4 linked regions of the Homo sapiens genome follow. The protein of the gene in region 2 purifies or fractionates together with the protein of the main gene of each other region. This does not show direct contact. Each region holds a gene or a part of one and is shown on either strand. Other genes may lie near its edges. The genes, in order: SMARCAL1, PRIMPOL, CLSPN and RFWD3.

What was found.
Region 1: the proteins of PRIMPOL (region 2) and SMARCAL1 purify together in Homo sapiens (affinity purification with mass spectrometry; one large-scale study listed by BioGRID and IntAct). This does not show direct contact.
Region 3: the proteins of PRIMPOL (region 2) and CLSPN purify together in Homo sapiens (affinity purification with mass spectrometry; one large-scale study listed by BioGRID and IntAct). This does not show direct contact.
Region 4: the proteins of PRIMPOL (region 2) and RFWD3 purify together in Homo sapiens (affinity purification with mass spectrometry; one large-scale study listed by BioGRID and IntAct). This does not show direct contact.

What each region holds. Positions count from the first base shown.
Region 1 is NC_000002.12:216,474,984-216,482,400, reverse strand, and holds part of SMARCAL1 (SWI/SNF-related matrix-associated actin-dependent regulator of chromatin subfamily A-like protein 1), read right to left. Parts: intron 7,133-7,417; coding exon 6,950-7,132; intron 5,293-6,949; coding exon 5,192-5,292; intron 4,199-5,191; coding exon 4,102-4,198; intron 1-4,101. UniProt on the Homo sapiens protein: ATP-dependent annealing helicase that binds selectively to fork DNA relative to ssDNA or dsDNA and catalyzes the rewinding of the stably unwound DNA. Rewinds single-stranded DNA bubbles that are stably bound by replication protein A (RPA).
Region 2 is NC_000004.12:184,678,253-184,685,669, forward strand, and holds part of PRIMPOL (DNA-directed primase/polymerase protein), read left to right. Parts: coding exon 1-142; intron 143-3,995; coding exon 3,996-4,084; intron 4,085-7,156; coding exon 7,157-7,246; intron 7,247-7,323; coding exon 7,324-7,417. UniProt on the Homo sapiens protein: DNA primase and DNA polymerase required to tolerate replication-stalling lesions by bypassing them.
Region 3 is NC_000001.11:35,748,225-35,755,641, forward strand, and holds part of CLSPN (claspin), read right to left. Parts: intron 5,713-7,417; coding exon 5,521-5,712; intron 3,283-5,520; coding exon 3,026-3,282; intron 1,588-3,025; coding exon 1,409-1,587; intron 1,308-1,408; coding exon 1,243-1,307; intron 381-1,242; coding exon 181-380; intron 1-180.
Region 4 is NC_000016.10:74,655,613-74,663,029, forward strand, and holds part of RFWD3 (E3 ubiquitin-protein ligase RFWD3), read right to left. Parts: exon of another isoform or gene 6,344-7,417; intron 5,842-6,343; exon of another isoform or gene 5,840-5,841; 5' UTR 5,838-5,839; coding exon 5,320-5,837; intron 1-5,319. UniProt on the Homo sapiens protein: E3 ubiquitin-protein ligase required for the repair of DNA interstrand cross-links (ICL) in response to DNA damage. Plays a key role in RPA-mediated DNA damage signaling and repair.

The sequences.
Region 1 (7,417 bases), on a different chromosome or scaffold from region 2:
CACCCAAGATCTCACTTCCTCCAAAGCCTTTCTCTACTAAGGGTCAGTTAAGGTATAATTCAACTTCTAAATCTCTATTTTTAAATTTATTTTTATTTTTATAATTTTTTAAGAGATGGGATCTCACTAAATGTTGCCCAGGCTGGTCTCGAACTCCTGAGCTCAAATGATCTGCCCACCTCAGCTACCCAAAATGTTGGGATTACAGGTGTGAGCCACCATGTGCCCAGCCCCCCAACTTCCAAATCTCTGTGTTCAGCCATGGCTTATACCTAATTTTCAAAGTAGTTGAAAAAACATACACACATTTAACATATTCATAAGTAGATATGTGTACCTATTCTGATTACCTTAAATTACAAATAATCAAAATACCCACCAACTGCATCTATACATTGATGACAATGGTGTAGTGTTAAAACCATGCCCAGTGGATACAACCACAACACACGATCACTATCACCCCTCTGCCGATTTTTCCTACATCTAAATTTCCAACTTTGACCATTTTTCAATTTAGAGGTATATTTTCCATATCTCCACTGACATCCCACAGTTTCATAAAACTAAACTGGTTTAAAATCAAATGATCTTTTGGCTGGGCTCAGTGGCTCTCACCTGTAATCCCAGCACTTTAGGAGGCCGAGGCGGATGGATCGCCTGAGGTCAGGAGTTCGAGACCAGCCTGGCCAACGTGGTGAAACCCCATCTCTACTAAAAATACAAAAAATTAGCCAGACATGGTGGTGCGTGCCTGTAGTCCCAGCTATTTGGGAGGCTGAGGCACAAGAATCGCTTGAACCCACAAGGCAGAGGTTGCAGTGAGCCATCATCACGCCACTGCACTCCAGCCTGGGTGACAGAGTGAGACTCTGTCTCAAAAAAAAAATAAATACATAAAAATAAGGCTGCTGCAAGGGCTCACGCCTGTAATCCCAGCACTTTGGGAGGCCGAGGCGGGGGGATCATCTAAGCTCAGGAATTAGAGACCAGCCTGGGCAACATGGCAAAACCCCATCTCTATCAAAAATACAGAAAATTGGCCGGGTGTTGGCAGCATGCGCCTGTAGTTCCAGCTACTCGGGAGGCTGAGATGGGGGGAATCACTTGAGCCTGGGAGGCGGAGGTTGCAGTGAGCCAGCATAGTGCCACTGTACTCCAGCCTGGGTGACAGAGTGAGACCCTGTCTCTAAATAAATAAATAAATAAATAAATATAAAAAATCAAATGATCTCTCATCTCCTATATTCTCAAAGCAGCTTCTCTTCCCATAAGTCTAGTTTTTATAGTCTACCTGCATTCTCGTAGTCTCCCAGGTGGAAATCATCCAGGCAAACAGAGTCCTCGGCTTATGCAAGTTTGTTCCCCCCATTAGTTCCCTCCTCTCTCCTTCAGGCACCATCTTTACTTGGGCCACATCACTTGGTACTGCATGGATTTGCAACAGCTCAACTGCGCTTCCTGCCTCAGGCTTCTTCCCATTTCAAACAGCCTACAGATCTTTGCCAGCTGATTTTTACCCCCAGGCTCTCCTTTAAAGATTTTTTTGGTCATGTCTTTGGGCTCCGCTGTCCCTACCTCATCAAGTCTACAGTTGCTCCCCTGGCTTTTCAGGCCTTTATAGAATTAGGTCTCAACGTACCTGGCCACTGTTCCTCACTATTCCTTAACCAAATCCCTCCACATTGGTGAAGTAGAGTTCCTTGAAAATTGATCATGACAGCCTGTCATGTAAGAACTCCAGATTATTCAATTAACCTGCACCCGAAATCTCCTAGCCTTTCAGGATCCCAGCCTTGCAGAGAGGGAAATGATATGAAAGATCATCAAGGCTGACCCCCAAATAACCCACATGTCCTCCTCCAGGATGCCCTCATCAGCCTCTTTCTGAATGACTGCAATGTCAAGGAAACGCCACCCTGCAAGGCAGCCTATTCCAAGTAGAAAAAGCTGCTAATGTGCATTTGATTATGATGATGGCAACACTGTATGCTGACTCGGGGCATGCATAATTAATTGGAAGCGAGTTCCAAGATCAGATTAATATTTCATTTCCCCTCTCAGAAGGAAGGCTATCTCAGTGAGATATAACCTCTTCTGCTTTTGTCTCCTATATTGGAAGCAACATTTTCTTTTTCTAGTAGTTGATAAAATTTTCAGCCCCATCTTAATTAAAAAATAAATTGATATAGTTATTGATCAAAATATTGATAAAACTCATTTATATTACCTTGTACTTATATTTTAGGTAGAAATGCTTAACCAATTTAGAGTAAGAGAAAGGCAAGGAGGAATAAATGAGTTCAAGTGAGAATCCTTTAAAAATAGGCTTTCTTTTTTTTCTTTTTTGAGACAAGGTCTGTCTCTGTTGCCTAGGCTGAAATGCAGTGGTGTGATCTTGGCCCACTGCAACCTCTGCCTCCCAGGTTCAGGGAATCCTCCTGCCTCAGTCTCCTGAGTAGCTGGGAATACAGGCATGTGCCATCATGCCTGGCTAATTTTTGTATTTTTTGTAGAGATGGGGGTTTCACCATGTTGCCCAGGCTGGTCTCAAACTCCTGGGCTCAAGTCATCTGTCCGCCTCAGTGTGGGATTAGAGGCTTGAGCCACTATGCCTGCTCAGACTATTTCTTTTCAAAAGGCTTGTAATAACCTAGGCTCTGTTACCATTTACCATTCAGCTGAACTGGAGAGTTCTTTAAAAAGCTTAAAAATAAGGTTGTTTTAAAATTGGCTTATTAACTATATATGTCTGAAAGGATAATTTGCAGTCTGCATTTAAAAATATGATCTGAGTCTTATTTATCCCAATATTTAGCAAATAAATCCTTGCAAAGAAAGAATTTATTTGCTAAATAAATGTAAGTGAATGAGCAGATCCACAGAGTCTTAAGTCTTGGTGTCAACGATAAGATTTAACTCAACTTCTTATTTATTTAAACTTTTTTCTTTCTCTTTTTTTTTTTTTGAGGCAGGCTCTTGCTCTGTTGCCCAGTTTAGAGTACAGTGACCATCATGGCTAACTACAGCCTTGACCTCCTAGGCTCAAGTGATCCTCACCTTTTCCTCTGGAGTAGCTGGGACTACAGGTGTGCACCACCATGTGTGGCCTAACTCAATATTCTGATGGTGATTTCACAGGAAGGAGGAGGTGCTTCACTTTCCTGATAAGCTACCGTAAGGCCCCTTTCTGCATGAGGCTCAGACCTGGTTCAAACTCTCCTGGCAGAAACAATTCAACCATGAGCTGTGCTCGAGGAGGGCATACTCCTGGTTTTCACCTTCTGGCCAACAATCCAAGCTGGGGAAGGAAAACAAGCTTTTGGAAGGCTCTGGGTCTCTTGCTCACTCCACTGTGTTTCACTGAAATGGGGGAGGAAGAGTCTGTGGCAGCCACTGGGCTGCAGCACTGAAACCAGGCAGGCATGATGGGCCCAGGGCTGTCCTGTTCAGAGGCAACAGCCTTCCCCCTCAGCACCTTTGACAAGGCCTGCCTGGTCATGGAGGGATGCCTCTTATACTCCTTTACAACAAGGGCTGAGCTCAAAGGAGGAATGCTGGGCCAAGTCAGGAAGCCTTCTTCCTTGGGCTGGCTTCACATGCCCTGTGACTTTGTGCAAACCTACTATACTGCCATGTCTCAGTTTACCCCTCTATCAAGTGGGGAGACACTGAGAATAAATAAAATGACAGAAGGGAAAATATATTCTATGAAGCCAGTACCCTATTTTAAACACTCCCCATTCTGTGCTGGGGATGCATTCCTGTGGCAGCCCTATGTGTGGTGTTGCTGTGTACTTTTTGAAACAATTCAACATTTGCCATGGGGAGTTTTGTCAGTTTCTAATGGCCTGCTGGAAGAGGCAGCATTCAGAGCCTGTGCGGGAATGTCAGCAGCTGTAGGAGCTAATGCCATCATTTCCCCATAAAGCGATGCATGCATGGTTCAACTGAGAATGACTGCAGGCCATTGTTTTCAGCTCTAGGCTGGGGGAGGTCCCTAGGAGTGATTCACATCCTCCTACTCAGGACCCAAAGACTTGGCAGACAGCTTAATGCCTCCCTCTGCTCCAGGGGTGAAGAGCCATGTGCTGGCATTACCTTGTAGAGGTAATCAGTGGATTCTGTCATTTCTGAAAAATTGGTCTCAGAAAGCCCGGCTTCTGCCAGAACTTTAATCTTCTCTTGAATCAGGGGCCTGTTGGGGAGAAATGAGCTGCAGTGAATACAACCTGCACAGAACCACCAGACTAATGAAAATGAGGCCACCCTCCTTGTTCTTATGGGACAACGGCTTGTTTACGGTTTCACATCTCTGCATCTCTCAAGGTGCAAACACCCATCTTGAAAAATTTGCCCCCTCTCATTTGTAAAAACTCCAATTTAGGGCTAAGAATATCATCAGGTTCAATATTCTTTCTAATGGAAGATGTGTAGGAAATAAATGCTGCCTCATTTCAACACAATTTTGAATCTGGTGGTATTATGAGCTGCCCAATTAACAAATCCACTAAAAAGGGGGAAGTAGGAGTGACCCACACACATTGCAAAGGGAAGACTCCTTAGTCATAAGGCTGGAAACAGAGACAAGCAGTGGAAACAAATGAGATAATCAAGAAATTTTGTATCAGGAAGGGGGAGATAAGGGGAAGAAGCTTTTTGAGATTTTTCACTTAGGTAACAGACAGAAAACCCTAGGGTTGAAAATCTTACTCCAGCTCTGCTAACGAAGTACACTACACAGTCCAGGGTAAGCCACTTTCTCCCTGTGGTCCAGCAGCAGCAATGTAAGATGTGCCCACCAGATAAATGCACATCATAAAAGGTAAAAGACTGTCACCCTGTCCTAACAAATGCCTTCACAGCTGGGAACAGGGTGTTTTACAAACTAAATTCCATCTATATTTTGTCATAATCAGCACTTCTCCCTGCCTCAGACCAGCAGCAAAAGGAGCCACAACCCCTTATTGCTATAAGATTCAGCATGCACCCTGCAAGCCACCAGTGAACGCTAGTGAGGGAGGCCAAATATGGTCATGATGAAAGCAGGAGGGCATCACTAGTCAATTTTCTATAGATCCTTAAAGACCTTACTTAGCAAAAGCAGAAGCACTTTGGGAGCAAAGTAAACATATCATCAGTTTCCACCCTTGCTCGACTCCAACTGCCAGGCCACCCAACCAAGCCATACCAAAGGTAGTCATCAGCTGTGCCCTTTGCCACGAGGTAGTGAATGCCCACGGAGCTGGTCTGTCCAATGCGGTGCACGCGGTCCTCAGCCTGGATCAGCACCTGTGTGTCCAGGAATTGAGACAGGCAGGTAAAGGCCTGAAGCAGTTCCATCCACCATAGCAGGTATGGTTCCTCTCCACCCCATTTCCAGTCCCACCACAACCCTCCCTCCTCAAAGCACTTCACTGTCTCAGACCTAGAAATAACCTGCACTTTACCATCTCAGACCTACAAATGACCTGCCACTTTAACAAAAGAGAGAACCCAAAACAGCCCTGGCTGGGGAACTGGAATCTGAAGCAGAAGATCTGCAGGTGGCTGTTCAGTGCTGGGCACTGAGCTAGGTGCTGCAAATGAAGAGGCACAGGCTCTGCCATCAGGCTGCATGGGGAGGGGCTGGTGATGGAGGCCTGCACACTTCCATTTCTTCACTGTATGAAATAAAAAGTTATCTTCTAAATAAATAAAAACATCACACACAAGGGAGAGGCTATCCATGATTTGGGCATAGGGTGGTGGTTTAATATAGTGGTAAGCCTTATAATAAATACTTAAGGGCTGGATGTGGTGGCTCACGCCTGTAATCCCAGCACTTTGGGAGGCTGAGGCAGGCAGATTGCTTGAGCCCAGGAGTTCCAGAACAGCTTGAGCAACATGGTGAAACCCCATCTCTACAAAAAATACAAAAATTAGGCATGGAGGCGTGCACCTGTAGTCCCCTGCTACTCAGGAGGCTGAGGTGGGAGGATCACCTGAGCTCGGGAAATCAAGGCTGCAGTGAGCCAGTAAGTCCCTGCAGTCCAGCCTGGGTGACAGAGCAAGACCCTGTCTCAAAAAAGCAAAAGAAAAAAAAAACCACCTAACATCATGAGCATTATTTCTTGTATAAAATGGCTACACCCTCAAGGTCTACCCATTATTAATGTAGTCTCTTATGTGTAGCCAATAAAAACCACAATATTATTAAATATTATATAAATATTAAAGGGGATATAACTTTTCTGGAGATTACCAGAAAAATTTAAGAGTTCAAACAAATGTCTTATCTCTGTCCTCAGTTGGTCAGGTGAGGCCAGTGGTGGTGTCCAGGAAACCCTCACTGCTGTCACTCTGTGTGAGGTCCATTGTTAAAGCAGCTCACAATGATGGCTACTAAAGGGGGCACAGGCTGGAACGTGAGGCCTGGGCTGCAACCTGGTGCCACCAAGTGCCCTCTTCAGTTATGGCAGTGCAGTCCTGCCTCACCCCTTGAGCTCTCGGTGCCCTAACTTCCTCCTATGAGACATGAAGTCAAGATTCCTTCTAGCCCTGGAAGACTTCAACCTTCCCGTTGATAAAATGGAGTCGATAATCCTACAGGTTGCTGTGAAAATCTAGAAAACAGCCAATCGCCTGGCGTGGTGGCTCACACCTGTAATCCTAGCTACTCGGGAGGCTGAGGCAGGGGAATCGCTTGAACCCAGGAGGCGGAGGTTGCAGTGAGCCAAGATCATGCCACTGCACTCCAGCCTGGGTGATAAGAGACTCTGTCTCAAAAAAAGAAAAAAAGAGACTAGTCAATCAACATAGAAGTGCTTAAAGGAAGTGAAAACTGACTTGTGGGAAGTATAATGAATGGATAAAAGGGAAACCACACTTTCCCCGACCGACACTCACTGCTTCCTGCCCACAGCCATGAGCATGCCTGGGGAGTATCTGAGTCTTCTGCGTCTCTTACCCCTGGGTTCCAAAACAGCTCAGCAAACACCACCAGGTCAGCCGAGGAGAAGGTGAGGCCCATATTGGCAGCGGTGATGGACAGCACGGCCACAGCATGCCTCTCCGACAGTTGGAACTGCTGGCACAGGTCCTCCCGCTCAGCTGATGAGGTGGAGCCATCGATGCGGATGTGCTGCACGTGCTGCAGGAACAAGGGGCAGAAGCAAGGTGGGCAACAGCCCCGGGGGCTTCTCAGCAAACCACACCCAGCCACAGCTCCAGCACAGAACCAGGTTCCAGCTCAGCAGAGGCCCCTGCCTTCAGAGCTTTTCTTTTCAAATTGACATTGGTATTGAGATGACTGCTTATACTCAGGTGCCATTGTAAGAAATAATAGAGATCCCTCTTAGGCCTTTGCCCAGTTTCCTGCAGTGGTAACATTCTATAAAAACTATAGTATAATACCACAGCCAGGATGCTGACTTCT
Region 2 (7,417 bases):
ACTTTCGGCTATATAAATCATCAAAAATTGGAAAGCGTGTGGCTTTGGAGGTTACTGAAGATAACAAATTTTTTCCTATACAGTCAAAAGATGTTTCTGACGAATATCAATATTTTCTCTCTTCTTTGGTCAGCAATGTCAGGTATGTAGTAGCAGCATCAAACCATTTTGTATTCATGAATATTTATTAAACAGTGAATGGCATTGTATATTACTAAAATGTAAATCATCTAAATTCATTCTACCTTAAGAAAATGTCAGTTCTTACAGCTCTTTTTTTTTTTTTTTTTTTTGATACAGAGTCTCCCTCTGTCACCCAGACTGGAGTGCAGTGGCGCTATCTAGGCTCAGTGCAAGCTCTGCCTCCCGGGTTCATGCCATTCTCCTGCCTCAGTCTCCCAAGTAGCTGGGACTACAGGCGCCTGCCACCACACCCGGCTAATTTTTGTATTTTTAGTAGAGATGGGGTTTCACCATGTTAGCCAGGCTTGTCTCGAACTCCTGACCTCAGGTGATCTGCCGACCTCAGCCTCCCAAAGTGCTAGGATTACAGGTGTGAGCCACCGCGCCCAGCCAGTTCTTACAGTTCTAAGTTAACTTTTCTCTTTTCTCCATTAGCTAAAAGATAATAGTAAAACGTATATTTGAACACTTAATTTTCTCTATATATCTTTTTAGGATTATATTTAGTGTATTTTCCAATTTTTCTAAAATGATTATCACTTCTGTAAAGAAGAAAACAATACTACTGGTATTGCATTTGGAAATATTTTACTATTAAAATGTCTCATTTTCTTTTCATGTATGCACATACATATAATTTGTATAGCTCCTTTAATCAAAAAATATTCTGAGATTATTATTTAAATGATTGTCATTTGTTTTTTCTACTTGATTTTATGAATATTTGTTAAGAATTTGCCAACAATTAATTGTAAATAAAACTTCTAATGCCTATGTAAATTTCCATTATATTGACACTGGAATTTATTGTGAGTTCTATTGTTGAGCCTTTAGGTTCCCATGTTTTGATCATTTTTTAAAAGTGTTAATGTTGGCTAGGCACAGTAGCATGTGCCTGTAGTCCCAGCTACCCAGGAGGCTGAGGTAGGAGGATCACTTGAGCCCAGGAGTTCAAAGCTGCAGTGAGCTATGAATGCACCACTGCACTCCAGCCTGGGTGACAGGGTGAGACCCCATTGCTAAAAACTAAAATAAATAAATAAATAAAAATAAAATCTGTGAAAGTCATCTTTCAACAGAAATACTATAGTAAGTCTTCATTTGATGTTGATAAGTTATTGGAAACTGAACTTTAAATAATGTGTGATGAATCCAGTTGTTTTTCTCATCCATGTTAGAAGGTAGTGGTCCCTGAGTCACAGACCAGTGGTCTGTGGTGGGAACTGGACCCCACAGCAGGAGGTGAGCAGTAGGCGAGCGAGCGAGCAATACCACCTTCCCACCTCAGCTCCGCCTCCTGCCAGATCTGCAGTGGCATTAGATTCTTATAGGAGTGCAAATCCTGCTGTGAACAGCACATGGGAGGGATCTAGGTTGCACACTCCTTATGAGAATCTAATGCCTGATGATCTGAGGTGGAACAGTTTCAGCCTGAAACCAGCCCACCTTGCCCCTGCCCCACCCATGGAAAGATTGTCTTCCAGGAAACCGGTTCCTGGTGCCAGAAAGGTTGGGGACTGCCGTTATAAGGAAATGATGTTGAACAAAACAACATTATTCAAAGACCTGCTAGATGTCATTTCTCTTAGAGTTGCAGTTTCCAAGAATCTATCCATGGCCTTAAGTGAGGACTTAACTGTATTTGCCTTCATTCCCTGTTTTTCTAGGCTGGCAACTTTTTCAGCCCAAAACATGGTTAAGGTTCAGACTAAATTACCATCAACTTGCCATAATTCTTTTCCTTTTGCCTTTCTAAATATAATTTTTTTTTTGAGACAGTCTTGCTCTGTGGCCTAGGCTGGAGTGCAGTGGTGCGATCTCAGCTTACTGCAACCTCTGCCTCACAGGTTCAAGCGATTCTCCTGCCTCAGCCTCCCAAGTAGCTGGGACTACAGGTGTGTGCCACCACACCCAGATAATTTTTGTATTTTTAGTAGAGATGGGGTTTCCCCATGTTGGGGGGGCCGGTCTCAAACTCCTGACCTCATGTGATCTGCCCACCTTGGCCTCCCAAAGTGCTGGGATTACAGGCGTGAGCCACCGTGCCCGGCCACTTAAATATAATTTTAAGGAAAGATTCTCTAGAAATTAATTTTAGTAATTGTCTAAAATACATTGCTGTAGGTATCAGGTTGTACAGTTAACAGCCGTTACCCAGGAGGGTGGAAGATGGATTGTTTTTCTTCATATATATATATAAGTATATTTGTACTCTTTGAGTTCTTTAATAACATGTCTCAGAAGTAAGGTCTGAGTTTCCTACTTTTAAATGGAAGTGATACTAACACCTATCTTACGGAGTTGTCGAGAGGATTTAAAAAGTTAAAACTGCACATAAAACATTTACAGCTGTGCCCAGCCCATGACATCTGCTCAGTGAATGTTGTTGGTAGCAGTAGTAGATCCGGGATTCTGAAGTGCAAAGTGCCGTAGCAGGAGTGTAAAAATTGTGTAATTCCTGCCACACCCTATTGGCACCAGAATAAGGTCACATTCTTTCTGCCACGTATGGAGAAGTGTGAAAAGCAACATTGTTAGTTCTAGCTCATATGGGAAAAGCAACTACAGCCCGAAGTGCAGGTAATCTCCCGATTACCCAATCTCGTTTCTTTCGCAGTTTAAATATGAATCTTACAGAGGTGGAGGGTTCTTCTACTGAATACAGTTACCTTGTCTTTTGTGTATTCCAAGTAAATACCAGGTAGTTTACTTCTTGAAATAAAGGCTAAATCCTTTATGGTTATGAATGTACCTTTTCTTTCCGTTAATTTTAATCTGTTTTTCCCCTTTGCTCTCACCCCTCCTTCTTTCTTCATTTCTTCCTATAAGTCACACCTCTAAAATTGTTGTAACAAAAAATTCAAAGGCTCTTTGTGTTTGGTGAATAGAGTTATATAGTCGTCTCCTGGTGTCTGTGGGTGATTATTATTCCAAGGTCCCTGTGGATACAAAAATCTGCAGATATAAAAGGATGTACTATTTTCACGTAACCCACACGCATCCTCCCTATATAATACTGTAAATCCTTCTAGATTACCTATACCTAATATAGTGCACATGCTATATAGTTGTTATACTATATTGTTTTTAATTTGTATTATTTTTATTATTTTTATTGTTTTTTTATTTTTATTTTCACTTATTTACTTATTTTTTTGAGATGGAATCTCACTCTGTCTCCCAGGCTGGAGTGCAGTGGTGCAATCTCAGCTCACTGCAACCTCTGCCTCCTGGGTTCAAGCAGTTCTTCTGCCTCAGCCTCCCATGTAGCTGGAATTACAGGCGTTTGCCACCATGCCCAGCTAATTTTTGTATTTTTAGTAGACAGGGGTTTCACTATGTTGGCCAGGCTGGTCTCAAACTCCTGACCTCAAGTGATCGGCCCATCTCAGCCTCCCAAAGTCCTGGGATTATAGGCGTGAGCCACTGCATCTGGCCTATTTTTATTGTTTTTTAAAAAACATACTTTTGATCTGCTGTTGGTTGAATCTGCAGATAAGAAACCATGGACACAGGGCTTCAGCAGTCCTAGAGTCCCCTGATCCATTCTGTAATTAAGGATAGTATTATAAGTAATCACCAACCTACTCTTTTAAAAAAATTATTTTCTTTAATTGACAAATCATATTTTTTTTATATGTGTAGGGTTTGTGGTTTTGTGGGCAAATGTGGCATAAATGTCCTAGAACAATTATCTGCTGAACAAAGGATTTTAATGAGGAACTATTAGGAATTCAGTGTCCTTTCTGTAGCCAGGCCTTGTTAGTTCCAGTGTGATGGTGCTTTGTTTCTTTTACCTATTTCTTCTTCAGGTTCTCAGATACTTTACGAATTCTTACATGTGAGCCATCTCAGAATAAACAAAAAGGAGTTGGATATTTTAACAGTATCGGCACTTCAGGTAAATTTTTTGATGTTTGTTTTTCTTTTTGAGACAGCATCTCTCATTGTCACCCAGGCTGGAGTGCAGTGGTGCGATCTCGGCTCACTGCAGCCTCCTCCTCCCAGGCTCAAGCCATCTCCTGCCTCAGCCTCCGGAGTAGTTGGGTTTACAGGTGTGCACCATCACGCCCAGATAATTTTTGCATTTTTAGTAGAGATGAGATTTCACCATGTTGCCCAGGCTGGTCTCAAACTCCTGGGCTCAAACGATCTGTCTGCCTCAGCCTCCCAAAATGCTGGGGTTACAGGTGCAAGCCACTGCACCCAGCTACTTCAGGTAATTTTTAAAAAATAATTTCCTATCAAAATGTAAGGGTACAGAATCTGTTTTGCCTTTAAAATCTTCAGTGTTAAGTGTTCATAATCACTGACCTTTCAAAAACTACCTCTAGCCAAGCACAGGGGCTCACACCTGTAATTCCAGCACTTTGGGAGGCTGAGGCGGGAGGATCACTTGAGCCCAGGAGTTAGAGACAATCCTGAGCAACTTAGCAAAACCCTATCTCTACAAAAAATCCAAAAATTAGCCAGGAATTGTGGTGCATGCCTGTAGTCCCAGCCACTCAGGAGGCTAAGGCAGGAGGATCTCTTGAGGCCAGGAGGTTGAAGCTACAGTGAGTCTTGTTGGTGCCATTGCACTCCAGCCTGGACAGCAGAATCAGACCCTGTCTCAACCAGTCAATTAATCAATTAATCAATCAGTAATCTACTTCAGGTTTTCTATCTCAAATGGAAAAAGTATGAGAAAGATGTTTATTAAGAAGTATTATTCACTGGGCGTGGTGGCTCATGCCTCTAATCCCAGCACTTTGGGAGGCTGAGTCGGGCAGATAACCTGAGTTCAGGAGTTTGAGAACAGCCTGGCCAACATGGTGAAACCACTAAAAATATAAAAATTAGCAGGGCATGGTGGCGGGTGCCTGTAATCCGAGCTACTCAGGAGACTGAGGAGGAGAATCACTTGAACCTGGGAGGCGGAGGTTGCAGTGAGCTGAGATTGTGCCATTGCACTCCAGCATGCGCAACAAGAGTGAGACTCCATCTCAAAAAAAAAAAAAAAGTATTATTCACTAATTTCACTAATTTTCATTTTATGGTGTTTTTCAAAAAACTACAAAAATAATGTAGGTTAACAAAATGAAAATGTAAAGTTCTTTTTCACTCTTCTGTCCATGATCAAAGGCAGGTAACCACTGCAATCATTTGCTATTTAACCTAGAAGAGCGTTTCCTATATTTCCTATATATAGAGAGAGATCTTCCTCAGTCTTTTAATGGTTGTATAGTTTTTCATGGTATAGCTCTGTCATAACTTACCCATTCCTCTACTGAAGAACATAGAGTGTTTTTTTCAAAGATTTCTTACATAAGCCCTCCAGTAAACATTTTTATACACATATTTTCATATATTGTTATTTATAATAGCAAAAAACTGACAGCAATCTAAATGTACAACAAAATTGAATTGGTTATATACTATGAAATCCTCTAGCTGTTAAATTTAAATTTGTGAAGCCTGTATAATGTGGAAAACACCCATTTGTGATGTTAAAAGAAAAACTAGTCTCTAAAATTATGTGTATGGTATGATTACAAGCTTTAAAATATGGATAAATTTTCTTATGTTTATTTTCTTGTCTTATATGTATTTATAGACATTGATTTAGAGTCTGCCTCTCACATTTCCACATTAATATATTTTTCAATATTTCTCCAATTATATATATTATTTTAGTAAGTGAAACATAAACTTCATTTAAAGCAAACTAGATTCTTGTCCTTAAAAATTAAATGATACTGGCTGGGTACGGTGGCTCACGCCTGTAATCCCAGCACTTTGGGAGGCCAAGGCAGGCGGATCATGAGGTCAGGAGTTCAAGACCAGCCTGACCAATGCAGTGAAACCCCGTCTCTACTAAAAATACAAAAATTAGCAAGGCGTGGTGTTGCACGCCTGTAATCCCAGCTACTCAGGAGGCTGAGGCAGGAGAATCGCTTGAACCCAGAAGGCCGAGCTTGCAGTGAGCCGAGATCGCGCCACTGCACTCCAGCCTGGGCAACAGAGCAAGACTCTGTCTCAAGAAAAAAAAAAAATTAAATGATATTTAAAATAGGTCATTCTAAATTACTACAGTAGCTTTTTAGATAGAAAATATAATTGTATTGTCAGTACCTTCCAGCTAAAGGTCTCAGGGCACACACCTGTAGCAGGTCAGCTGAGTGTATTGCCAGGAAAGCAATGGTGAGCACACACCATGGGAAACTTCAGTAAAGTGGGGCATCTTGGGAAGAGGAGGTTGGAAAGGACCGGGAGGATTGGATTTGGGCTTGGAATGGGTGGCTTGGGGGAGTATACCAGGAAGTTTGGGGTTTGTTCTGAGTTGGGTGTTGTTAGGGACAATTCTAGGACTGGTTTTCTTAGTAAAGCTTAACTGAAAGGAAATCAGAATAGAAATTAACACTGTACTTTGTTAAAAAAAACAAACAAAAAAACCAGCAGTTGCTTCTGTTAGCTGGGATCGGGGGTGTTGGTCATGTTTGTGGTTTGGAAGATGTTCCTGTTTTGCCTGTGTTGGGACATGATTACAGAGTGGTTATCTTTGTGCCTTGAGTCCTCATGACCACAGGGGCCTTATCTGTTGTTGAAGTTCTGTGAGATTGCCTGTGTTCACAGGAGAATGCCCGGCTGAGGTAGGCGTGCCAGGCTAGTGCATGGCAACACCAAGACCTGGCTGATGGAGCTAGGCCTGTTATGGACGTGAGGGACTGCCTTTCTCTTTGCCAAAATGAAGACAGCAGTTGAAATTATTTCAAACGCTTTTTATGAAATTAGTTAACATTTGACCTAATTGAGAGGTTTGAATCTTACCTGCTTCCTTGTAGTGTCACAAACATGAATTGACTGAAATTGCAAAGAGTGAGGGAAGGCTGAGAGATTGCAAAACCCGTAATTGTGCTCAACAACATTTAATCAAAATTTAACTTCTCAACTTTCAGCTATTGTAATTTATAAACCATTCTCTCTGTTGCAGTAGAAACCATTGAAGGTTTTCAGTGTTCTCCCTATCCTGAAGTTGATCATTTTGTTCTTTCTTTGGTGAATAAAGATGGCATTAAAGGAGGTAAAGTTAATCTCATCCTTTGTTAACTGTTATATGATAGAGTGATAGTAGCTTTAGAAACATTATTTGCATTTTAGGAATTCGGCGTTGGAACTACTTTTTCCCAGAAGAATTACTGGTTTATGATATTTGTAAATATCGGTGGTGTGAAAACATTGGAAGAGCCCATAA
Region 3 (7,417 bases), on a different chromosome or scaffold from region 2:
CAAGAAAGTAAGAATACTGGATGAAGCTTGTTTTTAATACACAAAGGGGGTGGATTTTTTAAACTGAACACACATAAGCTCAGTACCAACGTGGTGGGAGTTGGTTGGCTGGGACAAACTTTATTTAGCAATGTGGGAAGCAAAGAGAGGAGGAGATTAGAAAAACCATTACCATCTTACCTTAGAAGCTGAGCTGACCAAACTGGCTCGAAATAGCCCAGGGGAAGGAGATCTGAATCCTCCTGCTGTAGGGAAAAAACTGGTCCCACGGCCTGTTTGTCTGTTGCAAGGCTGATAGGATGGAATCGTGGAGCCAATCAGCTCAAAGCTGCTATTGTGGCTGCTCTCCTTTGTTAGCAATGAACATGAATCATCCTCATCTAAAGAAAGAGAAACACCTTTTAAGCACATGATTACAGAAATAAGGTGGATTTGTTTAGGAAAAAGAGTTGAGGATGAAACTGTCAGATAAAATTCATAGGCAAACCCCTCAAGTTATATGTTCCAAAACATTAAGTTAAAGGTAAATTACAGTACTAAGATAGCATTATATAATCAGGGCTTATTACTCTGAGCTAAGTGACACTTGAAAGTTCTTTTTTTTTTTTTTTTTTTTTTTTTGAGACAGTCTCGCTCTGTCACCCCAGCTGGAGTGTAGTGGCGTGAATTCGGCTCACTGCAACCTCCGCCTCCCAGGTTCAAGCGATTCTCCTGCCTCACCCTCCCAAGTAGCTGGGACTACAGGCGCGTGCCACCACACCTGGCTAATTTTTTATATTTTTAGTAGAGACAGGGTTTCACCATGTTAGCCAGGCTGGTCTCGATCTCCTGACCTCATGATCCGCCTGCCTCAGCCTCCCAAAGTGCTGGGATTACAGGCGTGAGTCACTGCGCCTGGCCGAAAGTTCTCTTCTTTCTCTTATCCTTCCTAATGCCTATGATCACACTCTTCATTGTCCAATCAATTATACGTCTTCCTTTGATCTACATACAGAAACATTTCATTGCTCACTCAATCAACACACATTCACTAAGGACATTATGTACCATGGTCTACTATAAATAAACTGCAAAAAATAGACCAAGAAAAATATTCTAATTCATAAACCCTTTTCATAGCTACATATGAAACTGGGAAGTGACCAGATTTAAAAACATGGAAACTTACCGTACTGCAGTCCTTAAATATCAAAGCTGAGGGACAAAAGAAATGTTAAGTTCTGCACAAGAATCACTACTTACCCAGTTTGCTAGGCTGCTTGCCTGAGTTTTCATCTGTTTCTGATTTTTCTTCAGTAGGAAAGTAACTGCAAAATAAGAAAGTAAATTGGTTCAGTATCTGTTCCTAGTTTTTACAGGAGGGGCAAATCCAAGGCAATTTTAAGTTTTCTTAGAGAGAATCACTTACCCCATCTTGGAAGAGCTGTCCTTAAACAGAAGTAAAGTAGAATCTGATGAGAGAGACTTGGGAACAGAGAGGAAGCCAACTGCCTTGCCAATTTCACTACTGCCATCATTATTTTCTTTATCCATTTCTTTTTCATCTTTTGTTTCTATTTCTTCACTACTAAGAAGGAATTCTGCAGTCTTTACCAATCAGGCCACCACAAAACAAAAAATACAAGTCAAAACATTTAAAAGCAAATACACTGGTAGCCTGAAATATGGCTGATTGGTTACAGATCACATCTTAAATTCAAAAAGGTAAACTTGAAGGAAGTTCCATATGACCATTATCAACATAATTTTCCCTGACACTTCTAGAACTTTTTTCTATTTTTTTTTTTTACCTTCTACCCTCCCGAAATTGCTAAGATTATAAAGGACGACTGGATTATCATTTTATTGAGGCAGTAAGAGGTTAATTAATCAGTCTAAGATTGCAGGCTGACTACTGATCTCAAACCAAGCACAGACTGAGACAGGCTGTATAGCTCAGCCATTGCTTTCTTTCTCCTTTACCCAAAATTAAATAATAACTCAAGTTGCTGGGCATGGTGGCTCATGCCTGTAATCCCAGCACTTTGGGAGGCCACAACGATGGGAGGATCACTTGAGGCCAGGAGTTCGAGACCAGTCTGGTCAACATAGTGAGACCCTCATCTCAAAAAAATTTAAATAAATAAATAAAATAAAATAAAATAAAGTGATCCCAGCATACAAAAAGGAAAGTTTTTTTTTTTTTTTCTTTTTTTGAGATGCAGTCTTGCTCTGTCGCTCAGGCTAGAGTATAGTGGCACAATCTTGGCTCACTGCAACCTTCACTGCCCAAGTTCAAGCAATTCTCCTGCCTGAGTAGCTGGGATTACAGGTGTGTGCCACCACACACAGCTAATTTTTGTATTTTTAGTAGAGATGGATTTTCACGATGTTGGCTAGGCTGTTCTCAAACTCCTGACCTCAGGTGATCCACCTACCTCAGCCTTCCAAAGTGCTAGGATTACAGGCATGAGCCACCCTGCCCGGCCCAAAAAGGAAAGTTTTTTAATACTTAACAATCGTATCATCACCTGTTTTCCCTAGGCAGAAAACAGTACTACGGAACAAGGGCAAGAGGCCCTTCTACAAATGCCTTCTTCTACAAAGAACGAAAATAACTCAGAAAGGCCTCTACCTCCCTAAGAATTTACTCCAGGCCTCAATCTAGCCAAGGTTAGGACTGCTTTTTAATCTGCTAGAGAAACCTAAATAAACAACAAAGATAAAATTTCCTACGAATACAAAGCCATTTTTAATATTAGCATTATTATATTAAAATATATAAACAGGTGGAAGCCCAGGCAATGGTATTCTGTCAGTACCACTGAATATCTGTATTCAGATATATAATGATGATCTACAGATATTCAGTGGTACTGACAGAACTGAAGTTCCTAAGATTTAGGGATATATGAGGTAGTTACCCTCATCATGCCCCTAAAACCTCTTATACAATTGAACATGCTTATTATACTCTTTTTCAAGTCTGACTTTTTCTCTCATATTCACCATGACAAGGTAACAAAACAACGTAATTGCCAGAAACCTCCTGATTTCCTTCTTCTTCCTCCTCCTCTTCTTTCTCCTCCTCTTCCTCTAGTTCTTCCTCTTTCTCTTCTTTCTCTACCTTCTCTTCTCCATCTTCCTCAGACTCATCTGTCATTTCTTCCTCTTCCTCCTCCTCTTCCTCAAACCCATCTTCATTATCTAATTTAAACAGTGCTTGGCGCTTCTGGCGCTCCTCAAACCTTCGGAGTTTCATTGCTTCTTGCAGTTTAGCTTTTAACACCTGAAGCTTTTCACCTGAACAGAAATATGTAGAAATGCTTTAGACATAATACAATAATTAGGTATGCATTTTAGGCAACTCCAGAAATATTCTAGTCACATCCCAAAAGGAAAATCTGAGACTCTAGTATTCTGGGCTTTTTTGTTATTTGAACACAAGAGTATTATTATGAATTGAAGTATCAAAGAGAACTTCTGCACCCTAGATAGTATACTACTCAGGGATTATAAAATAATTGTTCAAAAGAGAGAAAAGGTGGGTAGGGAGTAGAGCTTCAAGTCTGTGGCTCAAAAGCCATGAAGAAAAACATTGATAAATTTACCTATATTAAAGAAAAAGAGAAACGACTCGAGTAAAATGAGCTAATGATATGAACTGGCAGTTCACGAAAAATAAACATATATTGTTAATAAATTAAAAGTAATGCTTAATCTCACTTCTAATTGAAGAGCTACAAATCAAAATAACGAGATACATTTTCGACATGTTAGCCTGGCAAAAATTAGAAGGTTTGATAATACCTATTGAGAGGAAACAGGAACTCATACACTGTGATTCAGAGTGGTACAACCATTCTGAAAGACAACTGGATGATATATATCAAAATGTGATATATATCATGACAATTCCACTGTAAGGAATTTTCATCTAATATACCACCATATATCTGGCACTATAATATAACACTGTATGCAATAGCAACAACTGGAACAAACAAGACATCTGTCAATACGAGTATGGTTTAATGAGTCATGTTGTATTCATTCAATGGAATATTATGCAGCCATTTTAAAAAAAGCCTCAAGGCCGGGCGCAGTGACTCACGCCTGTAATCCCAGCACTTTGCGGGGCCAAGGTGGGCAGATCACGAGGTCAGGAGTTCGAGACCAGCCTGGCCAACATAGCGAAACTTCATCTCTACTAAAAATACAAAAATTAGCCAGGCATGGTGGCAGGCACCTGTAATCCCAGCTATTCGGGAGGCTGAGGCAGGAGAATCACTTGAACCCAGGAGGTAGAGGTTGCAGTGAGCTAAGATCGTGCCATTGCACTCCAGCCAGGGTGACAGTGCAGGACTCTGTCTTAGAGGAAAAAAAAAAAAAAAAAAAAAAGCCTCAAAAGCAATATAAAGTAGATCTGAGCTCTGGAGTTAGGTGGTCTGGATTAGACTACTGGTCCTACCATTTATTAGCTGTGTAAACTTGAGCAAGTGTCTTAAGTGCTCTGCATATCAGTTTCTTCATATACAAAATAAGGATACTAATGTTATTTACCTCATAGGGTTGTAAGGATTAAATGAGATAAAACATATAAAGCACCTAGAGCAATGCCTGACAGGGAGTAAATGTTCAATGTCACACACATTCACAAAATACGGTATATGGATAAAAATACTCCTATAAAGACATACAAGAAATTGTTAATAGTTATCTTTGGGAAGACTAGTTTTTCATTTGATACCTTTTTTCAGTGTTTAAAACTGTTTTCCATGTGATATATTACTTGTGATTTCAAGGGAGGGGTGAGAGCTGTCCTTAATACATTTCTAAAACACAAAGCAGAATGCATGTTATGATCACATTATAGGTGGGTTGTTTTGTTTTGGGTTTTTTGTTTTGAGACAGGGTCTCACTCTCTCGCCTAGGCTGGAGTGCAGTGCCACAATCATGACTCATTACAACCTCAACCTCCTGGCTCAAATGATCCTCCTGTCTCAGCCTCCCAAGTATCTGGGGCCACAGGTGCAGGCCACCATGCCTGGATAATTTTTTTTTTTTGGTAGAGATGAGGGCTCACTATGTTGCCCAGGCTGGTCTCCAACTCCTGAGCTCAACAGATCCTCCTGCCTTGTCCTTCCAAAGTGCTAGGATTACAGGCATGTGCCACTGCACCCAGCCTGTTTTTGTTTAAATTACATATACATATGTGCAAAGAAGAGAGTTTAAAAGGATACACGATATGGTTATAGAACCTGTCTCTGATAGAAGATTAAGTTTTTCATTTATTCTATATATTTGTCTATAATGGGGTTTTTTATAATAAGACAAATGATATCTAAAAAAAAAATAAAGCCAGCTTGTCCACCCCACACCTCTAGGTGTGCTACACGTGAATCATGCCAGAGATACTGCTCTGCAAAGCCTCCAAGGAAAAAGATTCTATAACTTTTCATTATAAGGTTTTCAATAGCCTTGAAGATCTGTTAGAATACAAAGCAAAAAGCAAAAAACAAAACCTGTGGGCTCAAATACCTGGTTTTGTGTGGCTTGCTCCATCCAACTTCTTAGGTGCTAAAGTCACAGGTACCACATCTGCTTTTAGCTCTTCCTTTCCATCAGTGCCCATGTCTTTCACTATGACGTTCACATTCACTGTCTGACCAGCCCTGGGTTTGGCTGCTGGATTAGCATGCTTCCAGAAACGCTGCTTCAAGGCTTCCAGTTCTAAACCCAAACGCCAACCAGTGTGTCAGTTTGCCATGCTCAAAACTCTTTCCTTTAAGACTTATAAGCTAAGTTTTTTTTAGCTCAACAATTATGAGGGAAACCACACATACACAGAGAAACCAAAAACCCCTTGCTACTAACTCCTGAGTCAAATTCATACAACTTAACCCAAACTAATTGACTGCCACAACTGTTCTTCCTCAACGTTTCAAAAATCAGACTTTAAAAAATCAGACAGAAATTTATACCTGAAATTTCTAAATATGTGCAATTCTTTTGAACATTCTTTAAAAATTCTTTAAAAGTATTAAACTGGTAGGAAAAAAGATTATAATCTCATCTATTCAAGGGCTTAATTTTTCATGGGTTTTGGTCTCCTTTTAAAATTCCCTATTTGTTATTGCTGTTTTTTGTTTTTGTTTTGAGATGCAGTCTCACTCTATTGCCCAGGCTGGAGTGCAGTGATGTGATCTCAGCTCACTGCAACCTCCATCTCCAGGGTTCAAGCGATTCTCCTGCCTCAGTCTCCTGAGTAGCTGAGGTTACAGGTGAGCACCACCATGCCCAGCTAATTTTTTTGTATTTTTAGTAGAGACAGGGTTTCACCATGTTAGCCAGGCTGGTCTCGAACTCCTGACCTCAAATGATCAGCCCACCTTGGCCTCCCAAAGTGCTGGGATCAAATTCCCTATTTTGAATGTTTCATTATTGGCAATCTTACTAAATATAGGCAAAGTCAATTTTTTTCAAGAAGGGAAAATAAAATGACAATCCAGTCAGTGATATAACTAAGCAGCAGGACTGTAAAAAGTTTTTTGGTGAAAACTGTTACACTAGTACAATTGGTACAATGAGAAAGAAAATACTGCAGCCCCAGTACCACATGCTCAACTTGTATACAAACGGAAATATATATATACTGGGAACAGTAAGTTCAGCAATCCAATAGTGATATAAACTTACCCCTCTTCCCCACTGCAATATCTTAGAATTTCCTTCTCCCTCAGCTAGCTGTTACCTGGAACCAATCCCTACTCACTCTGCTTAACACTTCATATCATAATGGAATCTGTGATGAGAGCTGGCAGTTTTAAGGAGAAAGTTCCTTTGGAGTTGATGCACACTGGATATTTTCAGGCGGCCTTCTCGTCCATGATAAAATGGTTTATTTTTAAATGGAGTCTCGCTTTGTCGCCCAGGCTGGAGTGCAGTGGTGCAATCTTGGCTCTCACTGTAGCCTCAATCTCCCCAAGCTTAGAGGTGATCCTCTCACCTCAGCCTCCTGAGATAGCCAGGACTATAGGCATGTACCACCATATCCAGCTAATTTTTTTTTTTTTTTTTTGAGACGGAGTCTCACTCTGTTGCCCAGGCCAAAGTGCAGTGGCATGATCTCGGCTCACTGTAACCTCCACCTCCTGGGTTCAAGCAATTCTCCTGCCTCAGCCTCCCTAGAAGCTGGGATTACAGGCATGCGTCACCACACCCAGCTAATTTTTTTATTTTTATTTTTAGTAGAGATGGGGTTTCACCATGTTGGCCAGGCTGGTCTTGAACTCCTGATCTCAGATGATCCACCCACCTCGGCCTCCCAAAGTGCTGAGATTACAGGAGTGAGCCACTGCGACTGGCCGATTTTTGTATTTTTTGTAGAGACCGGTTTTGCCATGTTGTCCAGGCTGGTCTTGAACTCCTGGACTGA
Region 4 (7,417 bases), on a different chromosome or scaffold from region 2:
GTCTGTGCTCTCTCTCTTTTTTTTTGAGATGGAGTCTCGCTCTGTCACCCAGGCTGCAGTGCAGTGGCGCCTGGCTAATTTGTTGTATTTTTAGTGGAGACGGGGTTTCACCGTGTTAGCCAGGATGGTCTCACCCATCTCCTGACCTCGTGATCTGCCCACCTCGGCCTCCCAAAGTGCTGGGATTACAGGCGTGAGCCACCACACCCGGCCTATGTCTGTGCTCTCTAAATGGAACTACAAAGCCTGGATAACAGCTTATCTGTTTAGAGTATGTCTTACAACTTATGCCCACTGTTGAAACCTACTATTCAGAAAAAAGGATTCCTTTAAATATATTACTGCTCATTGACAATGCACCCAGTAAACCAAGAGCTCTGAAGGTGATTAATGTTATTTTCATGTCTGTTAATATAACATATTCTGCAGCCCAACTTTCAAGACTTATTATTTAAGAAATAAGGCCAGACACAGTGGCTCACACCTGTAATCTCAGTACTTTAATGAAATAACATCTCTACAAAAAACAGAAAAAATTAGCTGGGTGTGGCGGCTTGTGCCTTTAGTCCCAGCTACTCTGTAGGCTGAGGCAGGAGGATCGAGGATCACCTGAGCCCGGGGAGGTTGAGGCTGCAGTGAGCCATGATCACACCACTGTACTCCAGCCTGGGCAACAGAGTGAGACCTTGTCTTGCCAAAAAAAAAAAAAAAAAAAAAAAGAAAAGAAAAGAAATATTTTGTTGTGACTCTTAGCTGTGGGGAAAAGCTTTTTTTATTTTATTTTTTTTAATTTCTTAAGATGATAGCTGCCAGTGATTCCTCTAATGGATCTGGACAAAGTAAATTGAAAACCTTGAAATGATCCACCATTCTTTTTTTTTCTTTTTGGAGACAGGGTCTGGCTCTGTCACCCAGGCTGGAGTGCAGTGGCATGATATTGGCTCATTGGAACCTTTCACCCCAACCTCCTAAGTAGCTGGGACTACAGGCATGCACACCATGCCCAGCTAATTTTTGTATTTTTTTGTAGAGACAAGGTTTCAACATGTTGGCCAGGTTGGTCTTGAACTCCTGAGCTCAGGCAATCTGCCTGCTTCAGCCCCCCAAAGTGCTGGGATTATAGGCATGAGCCACTGTGCCTTGGGGATCCACCATCCTTGATGCCCCTAAGAACATTCATGATTCATGGGAGGAGGCCAAAATATCAACATTATCAGGAATTTAGAAGAAGTTGATGTCAACTCTTATGGATGACTTTTGCCGGGCTCAAGACTTCAGTTAAGAAAGTAACTGCAGATGTGCTAGAAACAGCAAGAGAACTAGACTTAGAAGATGTGACTGAATTGATCTCATTCCTAGATTTTCCTTTCCTTCTTATTGGTTAGTTTATTGCTTATCCCACTGAATATCCATTACCTCAGGCAGGCCCCAGGGAAAATGATTTAGGCTTTTCACACTCTGCATTGCTCAGAGTCAAGAGTAGTCTTGCAAATGGGGTTTTCCAGAGAACCACCAACAGGTCATATAAAGATAATTCTCTGGGAATGAGGCTTTGAAGGTGCTCCAATCCCTCTGGTGCCTGCCAGGCTGTTGGTTTTTACTATGATTACAGGCAGATGCTTTTCACAACTATCAAGGAGCTGGAGAAGGTGACAAGAATAAGGAATGCCATAGAGCTCAATGAGATTCGGCTGTTTTTCTTTAATAATCACTCCCTGGATTGCTATAAGCATTTGGTCAGTTTCCTGAATTATGAAAAAGTTGATCCTGACAAATTCTGCCAGTTGTTTCACTACTTCCATGGAGATAATTCTCTGTGGTCCTTACTCTGCCATTTTCACTGACATCACCCAGGTTTTCTTTTTCTTTTTTTTTTTTTTTGAGACGGAGTCTCGCTCTGCGGCCCAGGCTGGAGTGTAGTGGCGCAATCTCGGCTCACTGCAACATCCACCTCCCGGGTTCAAGCGATTCTCCTGCCTCAGTCTCCTGAGCAGCTGGGATTATGGGCACCCGCCACCACACCCGACTAATTTTTGTATTTTTAGTAGACAGGGTTTCACCATGTTGGCCAGGCTGGTCTCGAACTCGTGACCTCAGGTGATTCGCCTGCCTCAGCCTCCCAAAATGCTGCGATTACAGGTGTGAGCCACTGCGCCTAGCCAGGTTTTCTTTTTAGACAGTGCTAAGCAAGTTTACCAACTCCATTTCTTGAGATTCTAAGTGAACAGCAGCTATAGCTACCATGAGACTAAACACATAAGAAAAGCATTTCATAAGAAGATTTAATCAAATACATACTAGAGTTAGGGTGTTGACACGTATATCAATAGAATTCTACATAGAACCCAGTAAAAAAGTGATAGACGATTAAAAAAAATCACTCTTTAATATTGCTTTTATGTAGCAAAGAATTTCCAAAGTCAGGCAAGAACACAGGAAAGGGGAACTGTGAAAACCAACAGGAAGCAGTGCTAGGGTTTCTCTTTGGGAGCACAGATTTAGAACCCAAGAAATTCTCCTCCTTCCCTGCACTTACCAACTTTGAATTTTGCTCCTTCCCTACTCTCTGTAGTCCTAGACTCCGTATGCTCCAGGAAAACAATATTGTGATCTGTGTTATTCACCAATATATCTAGGGCAAAGTTTAGTCTCTCACACAGAGGAGTGTTATCAATATTTGATGAATGAGTGATGACCCCCACTGCCAGAATGAAACCGCCCCAAACAAATCAGAAAGGAGTTTGTGACCTCAGCTAAGCCTGTTGGGAAGAATAAGCTCACTACTTAGCTTTCCATAGCTTTGGCTTCTTGGCTGACTGTGAGTCAAAAGCTGTTCACCTTGGCCCAGGCTTTCAACACCTGGCCCAGGGACAGTCTGTCAGATGAGTAAATGTCAAACACCACACTGAGAAATTCATCTCAAGAAATTCAGAAGTTATAAGCGATTAGTCCTGGGAAAGGTCATACTTCAGGGAAAAAAGTTTTAATCACATTTACCTGGCTCCAGAACTGATGTAATTTCCACTGAACTGCACACTTCCTGACCGTTTAGGTTATTCCCTTTGTGGAGACAGATTATGGCTGCCAAATAGCTTGACTGACATCTTTCAACATTTAAATTCTGTATAACTCATTCCCTGAGCAGATTCTATAATTTTTTTTTTTTTTTTTTGAGACAGAGAGTCACTCTTGTCACCCAGGCTGGATTACAGTGACAAGATCTTGGCTCACTGCAAGCTCCGCCTCCTAGGTTCAAGGAATTCTCATGCCTTAACCTCCCAAGTAGCTGGGACCACAGGTGTGTGCCACCACGCCCGGCTAATTTTTTGTATTTTTAGTAGAGATGGGGTTTCACCATGTTGGCCTCGAACTCCTGGCCTAAAGGGATCCGCCTGCCTTGGCCGCTCAAAGTTCTGAGATTACAGGCGTGAGCCACTATGCCCAGCCACATCAAGCAATTTTCTCACTAGAGTTTGGCTTCTGTTTGGCTCTCTAGTGGTTCTGTTTTTCTTTGTAAGTTGGCATCTGGTTTATAAGTGTCACCCTTAAGTTGGTTAATACAAGTCACTGTGCTTGACCAAGAGGAATCCACTCTGCGTCCCCCAACAAGAATGAGTGCATGGATAAGCAAGACTGAGGACTTGCAAGAGGCCTCCTGACAGTCAGCCAGCTCCTGGAAACACCACTCACAACTCTCAACCATGGAAAGTTAGCCCATTTACTTTGGGAGGGTCCCCAAATTACACCATAAGGTGCCTTCACCTATAACACAAATGTATGAAATCTTACCCTGCCTTTATAACGTGAGTAATGACATCTTAAAACAACAGACTATAGCCAAGCCTGCTGGTGCACGCCTGCAATCCCAGCTACTTAGGAGGCTGAGGCACAAGAATCGCTTGAACCCGGGAGCCAGAGGTCCTGGTGAGCTGATACTGCGCCACTGCACTCCAGCCTGAGTGACAGAGCAAGACTCTTGTCTTAAAAACAAAAAAAAAACCCAGAGTAATATGCATTTGCAACTCTTGTCAACACAGAACTAGGCATCTGTCATCCTTGATGGGCACTACAGACACTGGAGCCACAGTCATGGCAAGCCCCAACATTAAAATCAGCAGGATCCATGAAAAAGAATGCTGAATCCAGATACAGAAGGCACAATTCCAATTCCAGCCTTATCACAACCAAATCACAAATTATCCCATCAGCTTCCTCATTTGTAAAACATGGGTAATAGATGACCTAGCTACCACTTTTTAGTATCATCTCAATATTTTCACAGTGTTAGAAAACATCGGCATGGTTGCGTATGCCTGTAGTCCCAGTTAATCATCAAGAGGCTGAGGTAGGAAGATCGCCTAAGCCTGGGGAGGTCGAGGCTGCAGTGAGCTGTGATTGCACCACTGCACTCCAGCCTGGGGAGCACAGTGAGACCCTGTCTCAAAAATAACAATAATAAAAACAAGAAGAAAGAGAAAACAAAGGGATTTCGTCGAAGCTTCCTCCATCTGCCTATGTAGAAAACAGGGCAGATCCAGGCTCCAATATCAGTGCTAACTCCTCTATTCTATAGTTATGAGACCCTGAACAAAGCCCTCTCTGAGCGGAGATCGCACCACTGCGCTCCAGCCTGGGCGACAGAGTGAGACTCCATCTCAAAACAAAACAAAACCAAAAACAGACAGGTTTAATTAGTTAGGTGTGGTGGCACGCGCCTGTAATGCCAGGTACTGGGGAAGCTGAGGCAGGAGAATCGCTTGAATCTGGGAGATGGAGGTTGCAGTGAGCAAAGATTGTGCCACGGGAATCCAGCCTGGACGACAGAGTGAGACGCTGTCTCAAAAACAAAAACAAAAAACCAAAAAACGGACAGGGTATAGGCAATTGTTATTCTTCATAATAACCCTGTCAAGACTTGACAGCTAAGCCCTTCAAGAGGCAAGTTCAAACCAAGACTATGAAAGAAAATTAATTAATTGTGCCCCCAGGTGGAATGCCAGTGAATAATGAATTTGGGTGAGTAGAGACTTGCAAGTGAAGAAAGAATTTTTGGTGTACAAGACACAATCTGAACAACAGCCAATCTCTACAGAGATTGCCAACAAACTACCACCTAGTTTTCAAGGCACAACAGTTTAACTTATCCCTTCATTACTTTGTGAAGTAAGGCAAGCACTTTTATTTCCACCTATGAGGAACTGGGGGTCAGAAGTTACCTGACTTGCCAAAAGTCACACTGTCAGTCCTTGAATGGCAGAGCCTCAGTTTCATAATTTCTAGTACAGCAATGATCACAGACTTATCCATATATTTATTTACCTGGCACTGTCTGTCCTCTGAGACCCTCCGGCTCTTGCCCTCCGTGAAGCAGATACCCTCCTTCTTGTTCTCATTGGCCCTACACTGTGGTTTGAAGATGAAGGTCTCAGGAATTCCAGCATGCCATGAAGTCTCTGCAGTCCGCTGATGAAGTTGGTCATTGAATGCAACGAAGATGCTGGGATGGTGTGATTACCATCAGATCCCTGCCTATGTTGTTCTGAAGTTCTTGGATTGATGTTCTCCACAGTGTCTTCTCCCAAGACCTCCACTTCTGTCAGGTCAACAGACAGTTGCGGAGCAGGCTGGAGCAGGGGTGGTGTCGCTTGGCTGCTGATCACCTCAGCAGGAGCTGGCTGGAGGATGGATGGTACCCCCTGGCTGCTGACCACATCAGCAGGAACAGGCTGGAGGAGGGCTGGTCCCCCTTGGCTGCTGGCCATGCCAGCAGGAGCTGGCTGTTGTTCGGCATGATTTAACTGCACCTGAACATCATATTCCATTGCTTCATGAGCCATCACTAGAGAAACAGTATTTGTAAAAAGTATTAATAAAATAGATAAAACATGCTATGTAGGTGACAGAATCATATTTAATCTTTCTGATTTTATGTTTAATATCATTCTTAGCAAGACTGAGAAGCTTCAAGAGAAGATTTTAACTACTTAAGTCAGAAGTGTTTGGTAATGGACTTTCCTCTCTATAACAAGCATTTATAACCAGTTTTCCGGTTTGCCCTTAGAAAACATGAAGTCCTGTGATCATAGTAGTATCTTCCAAAATAGAAAGATCTATAAACCAAGGAGATTAAACTACTGGGTCTAAAAGTAATCTCTCAGACACTTTGCAGTTCTCTCAAGCTGAATATGGACATTCACCAAAATCAAATGCATATAATGCAGTATCTAATTTTAGCAGGCAATATTAATCTTTCACAGCATCAACAGTTACAAGGGATAAATAGAGAAAGGACATTTTTTACACTTGCAAAATTAACTGTTACTAACTCAAAATGGAAACTTACCTAATGTTTCCAAAAAGGCTGAGCAAACTTTATCCTATCCCTTTCATTATTTTTGTTTTCCATCTCTAATTCCATCATGTTAGCGTATTCAACAAATATTTATTAAGCACCTATGTTCTTTTCATGTTTCCTATCTTTAATTCCATTGTATCAGTTTGAAAACTACCACCTAGTTTTTAAACTAAAAAAAAAAATTTTTTTTTGTTATATAGATGAAGGCTTCCTATGTTGCCCAAACTGGTCTTGAATGCCTGGCCTTACCTCCTCATGCATCAGGACAACAGGACTGAGCCACTGTGCCTCCCTACCACCTAGTTTTTAAAGTACATCAGTATAACTTATCCCCTTAATTACTTTGTGAAGTAAGGCACGTGCTTTTATTTTCATCTGACTTATGAGGAAATGGGGGTTCAACTAATAGTTATTAAGCACCTGTTATGCAGACAAGACACCCTAGAGGCAAAAACAGATAAGACCCCATGTATCAGAGTTTAGATTCTAGCAAGTAAGATGTCAATAAACAAATACATGAAAAAAATTATAGATTATGATGTTTGGGGTTGAGGAGACAAAGAGGACCAACTAAGACACAATTGTGAGGGAAGTACTCTTTTAAAGAGTGAAAATTGGGCTGAGGCATGAAGGATTAAAAGCAGCTGGCTATGCAAAGAGCCAAGAAGAGTCTCAGAAGGAAATCAGTGCATAGGTCCCTGATGAGCATGGGTTTCACTGATGAACAGGACACCATTATTAAAGGGCCTATGGGCCTTGGTAAGGAGTTTCTTCTATGTTAGGAATGCACTGTAGGGGTGCAAGAGCATAAGCTAGGTGACCAGTGTAGAGGCTATTGTGGGAGTCCAGACCAGAGGTCAGAGAGACCTAGGCAAGAGTGGTAGCAGTGGAGATGAAAACAAACAGACAGCTTTAAGAATCTTCAGAATGGTCATGCTTCTTTTTTTTTTTTTTTGAGATGGAGTCTCGCTCTGTTGCCCAGGCTGGAGTGCAGTGGCGCGATCTCGGCTCACTGCAAGCTCCGCCTCCCGGGTTCACGCCATTCTCCTGCCTCAGCCTCCC